Homo sapiens: one gene and its partner. The protein of the gene in region 2 interacts with the protein of the main gene of each other region in a pairwise test. Each region holds a gene or a part of one and is shown on either strand. Other genes may lie near its edges.

What was found. The genes of interacting proteins can lie anywhere in the genome.
Region 1: the proteins of FXYD6 (region 2) and GPR42 interact in binary tests that used the Homo sapiens proteins (3 or more experiments, as listed by UniProt).

What each region holds. Positions count from the first base shown.
Region 1 is NC_000019.10:35,369,367-35,372,966, reverse strand, and holds GPR42 (G-protein coupled receptor 42), read right to left. Parts: upstream 1,900-3,600; 5' UTR 1,849-1,899; intron 1,619-1,848; 5' UTR 1,608-1,618; coding exon 567-1,607; 3' UTR 5-566; downstream 1-4. UniProt on the Homo sapiens protein: G protein-coupled receptor that is activated by short chain fatty acids (SCFAs), such as propionate. Hence may play a role in the regulation of whole-body energy homeostasis and/or in intestinal immunity.
Region 2 is NC_000011.10:117,869,847-117,873,791, reverse strand, and holds part of FXYD6 (FXYD domain-containing ion transport regulator 6 precursor), read left to right. Parts: intron 1-3,945. UniProt on the Homo sapiens protein: Associates with and regulates the activity of the sodium/potassium-transporting ATPase (NKA) which catalyzes the hydrolysis of ATP coupled with the exchange of Na(+) and K(+) ions across the plasma membrane.

The sequences.
Region 1 (3,600 bases), on a different chromosome or scaffold from region 2:
ACTGTTCTCTTTTGCTTGCTTCCACATTTATTTGGGTAATTTTTCTTCTGTCATTGTTCATAAATGTCTCTGATGATCCACATTTATTGAGCAATGGGAACTTTCTGGAAAAGGCACTGTGGGAGCAGAATGCGGCCTCATCCCTGGAGCCCTGTCTCCCCCGCTCCTGACTCGCTGGCTGGGAGCAGCTCTGAGGATGGGGTTCTCCCCTCTCCTGCCCCTGCCACTCACTGGGCAGCCCCCTCAGACCTGGGCACTGCTCTTAGCTCCTCTGCCACCCTCAAGAAAACACAGGAGCTGCCTGCTGCTATGAGGACCTCATTGTTCTCCAGAGCAGCCTCTCACCCTGACCCCTTCCCAGAGCCCAATCCATAGTGTGTGGGTGGATGGGGATGGAGGTGAGATCGAGAGCTGGGCTTTAGCGCGCATACCCTTAGGGAGGCTAGATGTCTACTCTGCCCCCAAGCCCCATCGGGCCCCAGCTCGCCACTCCAAGTCCCTCCTGGCGTGAGCGAGGAAGCGCCCTGAGGATGACACGCCAGCTACACCCTCCTCCCCCGGAGGACCTAGTTTTCAGCACAGGCCACCTGGCCACCAGTTCCACAGCCCTGTGAGTGTTCACTGGTCTTTCTTTCAGCTGGTCGGTCCGCTCTCTGCTCCTCCCCTCCCTTCTGCTCCTTCAGCTCCATGCTGCTCTCCTGCTGCCACTGGCCCCAGAGCCCACACAACCTCCTCAGCAGCTCATGAAAGTCGGCTTGGAACCCGGAGGAGGAGAAGTAGTAGACAAAGGGGTCGACACAGGAGTTCAGGGTGCTGAGAAGCGTCACGTAGATCCTCCACACCGGGCTTTCACCGCAGATATAGCCCACGACATGGGACACGTTGTAGGGCCCAAAGCAGACAAGGAAGTTGAGCAGCGTGGCCGCCACCAGCCCCGCCACCCTCCTCTGCCGGCGGTGGCTGCCCCCTCTGCCGAGGATCCACACCAGGCGGCTGTAGCAGTAGCTGGTGATGATCAGCGGGACCACAAAGAGGACCACAGCCATCTCCAGCCGCACGGGCAGGAGGATGGCTAGCTGGTCCTTCCAGAACTCCAGGTAGCAGGTCCCATTGGTGCCCTGGCTGTGGGAGATGTCCCCTGAGAATTCTATGACGTAGACCACGCTGCAGTGAGCAGAGGCCAACAGCCAGCAGGCCACACTCACCAGACCTGCCTGCCCCAGCCTCGGCCGGGTCTTGTACCACAGTGGGTGGGCCACACTCAGGAAGCGTTCAATGCTCACAGCTGCCAGGAAGAGGGCGGTGAGATAGATGGTGGTGAAGAAGATGAATCCAGAGAGTGGGCAGAGGATGAAGGGCAGGGGCCAGTGCATGCCATTGGCTGCCTCCACCATGCGGAAAGGCAGGAACAGCAGCAGGAGCAGGTCCGAGGCGGTCAGGTTGAGCAGGAGCACGTCCACGGCCACCGGGCGGCACCGCAGCTTGCCCACGAAGACCACCAGGGCCAGCAGGTTGAGGGGGAGCCCCACCAGGAAAGTGAGAAGGTACACCGAGAAGACGAACCAGTGATTGCCGGAGAAGTAGGACTGGTCGGGGCCTGTATCCATGGTGGTGGCCACTGGTGAGAGAGAGTAACATGGAGTTGGTAGTGGGGGCCCTAACGGCCTCTGGCCAGCAGCATCTCCCCTAAAAGGGCACGAGGTCACTACGCCCACCCCTCTTGTCTCTGGGTGCCTTCCAGGCGGGGTCAGCCTGCCTGTCTTCCTGAGCATGCCCTGTCCCCTGTCCCTTCCCCAGCAGAGAAGCACCAAGGTGCTCCTCCACCCAGCCCCTCGGGCCCAGGCTCACCTGCTTCTTTGAGACCCCAAATGCTCTGCCGCACAGCACCTTGCTGTCTCTCCAGACCTAGTGCAGTTGGCTATTTATCCGGCAGAACTGATAAAGACCTGGCCGTGCCCATGACATCACTCACTGTTGAGCAGTGGCACAAAGATGCCTTGAGCTCCGTTGCCAGGGCTGGTCAGTATGCAAAAAGGGGAACAAATTCCACAACTGCGTGCCTCCCTCCTTGCGCAGCCTCAGCTGGGATGCTCCAAACAGGCCCCAGCTGACGTCTTCTTCCCCTCCCCTCTCTTCCACTTGAATTTTGTCTGATTCTCTAGAATGGCACTTATCCAGTTTGCCTTTTAAGGGCACAAAGCATGAGCCAGTGACAGACTGGACTCCGTGAGGTCTGTTCCTTCCTGACTTTGTGATGTGGGGGAAGAGATGTGTCTCTTCTTCCTCCCCTACAGAACAGGGATTGTCATAGTACCTGTACCATATTTCAAAGCATGAACACATGCAGATTAAAACATATATACAGGTAGATTAAAATGTTAATAATATAGGTCAATTGCTTTTTGAAAATATTTATTTTAGATTCGGGAGCACATGTGCAGGTTTGTTACATGGGTATATTGCATAATACTGAGGTTTGGGCTTCTATTGAACCCATTACCAAAATTGTGAACATAGTACCCAATAGGCAGTTTTCCCACCCTTGTCCTCCGCCCTCCCTCCCCCACTTTGGAGTCCCCACTGTCTATGGTTTCCATCTTTAATGTTTGCGTGTACCCATTGTTTACCTCCCACTTAAAAGTGAGAACATACAGCATTTGATTTTCTGTTTCTGTGTTAATTCACTTAGGATCATTCACTTAGGCCTCCAGCTGCATTTATGTTGCAGCAAAGGACATGATTTCATTCTTTTTTATAGCTGCATAGTATTTCGTGATGTGTATGTACCATTTTTTCTTTATCTAGTCCACCATTGATGGGCACCTAAGTTGATTCCATCACTTTGCCATTGTGAATAGTGCTGTGACAAACATACACATGCAGGTGTCTTTTTGGTAGAATGATTCCATTTTATGAAAAATGACATTGATAATTTGGTAGGAATTGGGTGGAATCTGTAGATTGCTTTGAGCAGTATGGACATTTTAATGATATTGATTCTTCTAATCCATGAACATGGAATGTTTTTCATTTATTTGTGTTTTTTAGTTCTCCTTGTAGAGATCTTTCACTTTCACTTCCTTGGTTAGATGTATTCCTAGGTATTTTATTTTTGTGTGTGGCTATTGTAATTGGGATTCTGTTCTTTATTTGGCTCACAGCTTGACAATTGTTGGTATATAGTAATGCTACTGATTTTTATACACTGATTTTGCATCCTGAAACTGCCAGTCATTTATCAGGTCTAGGAGTATTTTGGAGGAATCTGTAGGGTTTTCTAGGTATAGAATCATATCATCAGTGAACAGAGATAATTTGACTTCCCCTTTCTATTTGGATGCCTTTTATTCCTTTTTCTTGCCTGATTGCTCTGGCTAGGACTTCCACTACTATGTTGAATAGGAGTAGTGGGAGTAGGCATCCCTGTCTTTTTCCATTTCTTAGGGGGAATGCTTCCAACGTTTGCCCATTCAGTATGATGTTGGCTGTGAGTTTGTCCTGGATGGCTCTTATTATTTTGAGGTGTGTTCCTTCGATGTTTAGTTTTTTGAGGGTTTTTATCATGAAGGGATGTTGGATTTTATTATATGTTTTTTTCTG
Region 2 (3,945 bases):
CCCTGGAAATTTCCCGACAGCCTCGGGGGAGTCCACCCACCGAAATCTCCCCTAAATAAGAGCACCTCCTCTCTTCCTCCCAACCTTGTTGGACTTAGTCGGCCGCCATCTGGATGGCAGACTGTGCCAGGCAGCCCCCCAATATTCACCTTCGAACAAATCACCTTCTGAGCACCCTAAGGGAAGCAAACCAGTCAAGAAAGGCACAGCCCCAAGGAGGCAGGGAGCCTGCTGTGGAAAGGCCGGGTTCTAGCCCCAGCTCTCCCCCTGAGCTTCCGTGCTACCGAAAGGCAAATGCGTTCATTGCACAAATATCCCTTTGGATGCAAACTGGGCTTCTGGTGAAATCCAGAAATGGCTTGGACTGCTCTTCAGCAACTGAAAGCCTTTCGGATTTTAGACCTTTGTTTCCGCATCTGTCAATAGTGGGGTTTAGACTCATGATTTCCAAGGCATGTCTTCCTCTAAATTTGTGTGGATTATACAATCTTGAAAGAGATCCCTTTTCTCTCCAGGTACCAAATAGTACTCATTATTTCATAATACAGGGCTGCAGCTGAGCTGAGCTGAGCAGGAAGGGGCTGGGCTCTGGTTACCCTGGAGAAAGTTTCCTTTTCACCCAGTGTGGCAGAAGGTGCCCTAGAAGCTGAAACCAAGTTTTTTTCTTTAGGGCTGAGGGAGCCACCTCCTCCTGGATGCTGTGGTCTACCTGGCCTTTTCTACCAGGCTGCACACTGGAGGCGGGCGGCGGTTGGGGGGGGTTCTTTAAAGAGTTGTTCTCTGGAAGAGACAACTGGAGAGGACTGGGCTGTCATTTTGGAGGTCCATGAAATCTTCTGCAGGGAGAACCCCTGGCCAGCTGGAGAGTTGCAACGAGAGGGGCCGGTCGGGAACACAGTGCTCTGACACCGTCCCTGATGAGAGGCAGGACATCTCCGGCCGAAACAAAAGCATGGAACCAATTTGGCAGCATCATCTCTGCTCCAGAATCCGGGGAGGGAGAGGTCCCGACCTGGGAAGGGATGAAGCCAGCTTGTAGGCTGCGCAGGAACATGTTTGTTACAAAGATGTGGGAGGGAGCACACAGCCTGGGAAAGGGGCTGGGCCCCCACGGACCAGGCTGGGGCCATGGGAATGGGGCTGCCCCAGCTCAGAATATCTGATGTGGGCAGAGAGGGCCAAGGATGAAGGGGTGTAGTTAGAATAACAGTGACCCCCACGCAGCTGGAGGACAAAGCCAGGCCCACACTGAGAGACCAGAGGCTAAGGTTTCAAACTCCCTCGTTCATCCTTTTAATAAATGTTCCCCTCATATGTCAGGCAGGCCCTGTGGGCTTCTGAGGTTTCTCCTTTGCTGGAGCCCTCCTGCTCAGGTAGATCAATGGGCTTGTCCTGTTCCTTCCTCTCCCCTACTGTCCACCTCATGTCCACATCCTACCAGGAGGCCCTGCGACTTTCTTCCTCCATAGGAAGAGCCCCTCCATGCAATCACGGGTGCACTTACACTCTCACACACGTTCCCTTCCTCACACATATATAATCTCCCACACCCGACAGGGAGGCAGTGGCTCACACATTCTCACACGCCCTGTCACCTCTCCCGAAGAGCTGCAGTCTCTCAGACCATGGTGATGGCCTGTGAACGTCCACCCTCTCAGCCCATTCCATTTTACCCACTGATGTTACAGCTCAGGTCCAGGTTTGCCACTCCTCTGCTCAAAAACCTCCCCAGGCTCACCAGTGCCTATTAATAAGCACAGGTACATGGTGTAGGCACTCCAGGCTCAGCGTGACCTGGCTGCAGCCACCTCTGCAGGCACCTTCTCCAGATGGTCATCCGAAGCCTGGTACTGTCTCACCCTCTGCCTGAGCTCAAGCCGTTGCTGGAATGTGCCGAGTAGAGGGTGGCAGTCTTTGTAGACACACAAACTTGGATTCTAAACTGCATTCTGATGCTTCCTGGATTTCTTCACTTTGCTAAACCTCAGTTTCCTTACCTGTCAAATGAGTGTGAGGACAGTATGAGGCGAGCTGTGTAAAGGGCTCAGCATGCTGCCTAGCATGGAGTAAACACTCAGGAGATATCAGCTGCTGTAATAATGATAGTAATGACACATTATTAGGATTATTAGAATGGCATTATTATTGTTATATCATCCTTCGTGGCTCCTCCCAAGTGTTTATTCTTTCAAGTAATTATTCCATATTCCCAATAAACAGGCATTAAAATTCCCAATAAACATACTCATATACCGTGAATGTCCTGTCAGTTCTTCCTTGAGAGCACACACCTGCATTTTAGCTGCAGAGGGACACGCCCCGCCTCCCACCCCGCCCGCTCCACTGCACCGCCTCTCAATGGCAGGTCTGTTCTCCCCACGGTGCCTGGCACAGTGTCAGACACGTGGAGAAAGCCCAGTGAACAGCGTGTGTGCTGTGACACGCATGGGGAAGAGTCCTCATCACCAGGAGGTGTAGACACCTAGTCGCCCTTCCCGGCTGTCTCCCATACGCCGGTGCACACCACGCGTTCCCAAGATGCACATCCCTTTATTACCGTGCGTCACCTCAGTCTCCCACTTGCTTTGGTAGAGTCTAGAAACTAAGAATTTGACCCCATCTGAGGTCTGAGAGATGCTTAAAAGCTGAAGTCAAAGGAGAGAGGCTGATTCCTCACAGCATTTTGGTAGTTGGGATTTGACAGAGACACAGAGATTAGAAATGAGGCAATGGAGGAAGGAGGATACCGAGAAAGTTTTAAATGCCTGAAAAATTCCCTACAGATCCTTTGGTTGTTCTGAGCTTAGAATGGATTTGATGTAAAGGGATAATGATGCTGAAGCGTCCTTTCATTCACACATCAACATTTATTGAGCAGCTGCTGTGCTCAGTGCCAGGGATCCAGAGATGGCCAGAGTGTGCCTGTGCTCCCAGGGAGCTATGGTGTGATGGGGGCATACACTGGTGACAGCCCTACATGGGAAGGGGTGTAGGCCTTGGCTCTGTGGGTATGAGGATGCATTGAGGGGAGGGAGGGGATAATGTGTTTCCTGAAACAGAGACAGAGTCAGGTCAACAGCCCCCTCCTCTAAAGGCAGGGCACATTTCTGGGTATCCAGGCCCGTGGGTCAGGGTTCATCTTCATGCCACTTCTACCCCTAAAAGGGAGACAATATGAAATTGTGCAAAGTGCCCTGTAGGCTGAAACATGCAGGCCAGAGCTGTCCTTCTAAAGAGGTAGGCAGAGAGAGCAAAGGGGGCTGCCTGGTGCTGTGGCCTGGCTGTGGGCAGGGTGGCGTGGGCCTGGCTTCTGGGTTCCTGGCCCTGGCAGCTGCTCTGGGTTTCTGTGTCTGCTGCTGGGACTGCTGTCTGTCCTGTCTTGAATGGGCCTTTGTCAGCAGGTGTGTGGGGGAGGTGATCCCATCCTGGCCTGACTCCATCACGCCCTGCTGGGGCGTGCAGCCTGCTGGGGCCCCAGCCTGTGGCTTCTGTGCAATACCACTCACCATTCAGACTCTCTGGAGCCAGACCGAGATCTCCTGGGGAACCAGAGGGGCCTCAGCCCCTGTGCTGGCAGGCAGGAGGCCTGAATCCCACTCTGACTCCCTCTGGGCAAGGCGCGGCATTGGCCTGTGCCTGAGTTGGCCTCGCAGTACTGTTCTGTGTTTCTGCTTCTGAGGGCTGTTGTGAGAAGTCCATGGGTGATGGCTGGGATGCCACAGTGTCACGGTTGTCAGTGATGGTGAGGTGACAGCAAGACCTGGGAAGGGGGCTGGGGCCCCACGGACCAGGCTGGGGCCCAGAGAATGGGGCTGCCCCAGTTCAGAATATCTGATGTGGGCAGAGAGGGCCAAGGATGAGGGGATGTGATTGGAATGACAGTGACCCGCATGCAGCTGGAGGACAAAGCCAGGCCGGCACGCACTGAAAGACCAGAGGCTAAGA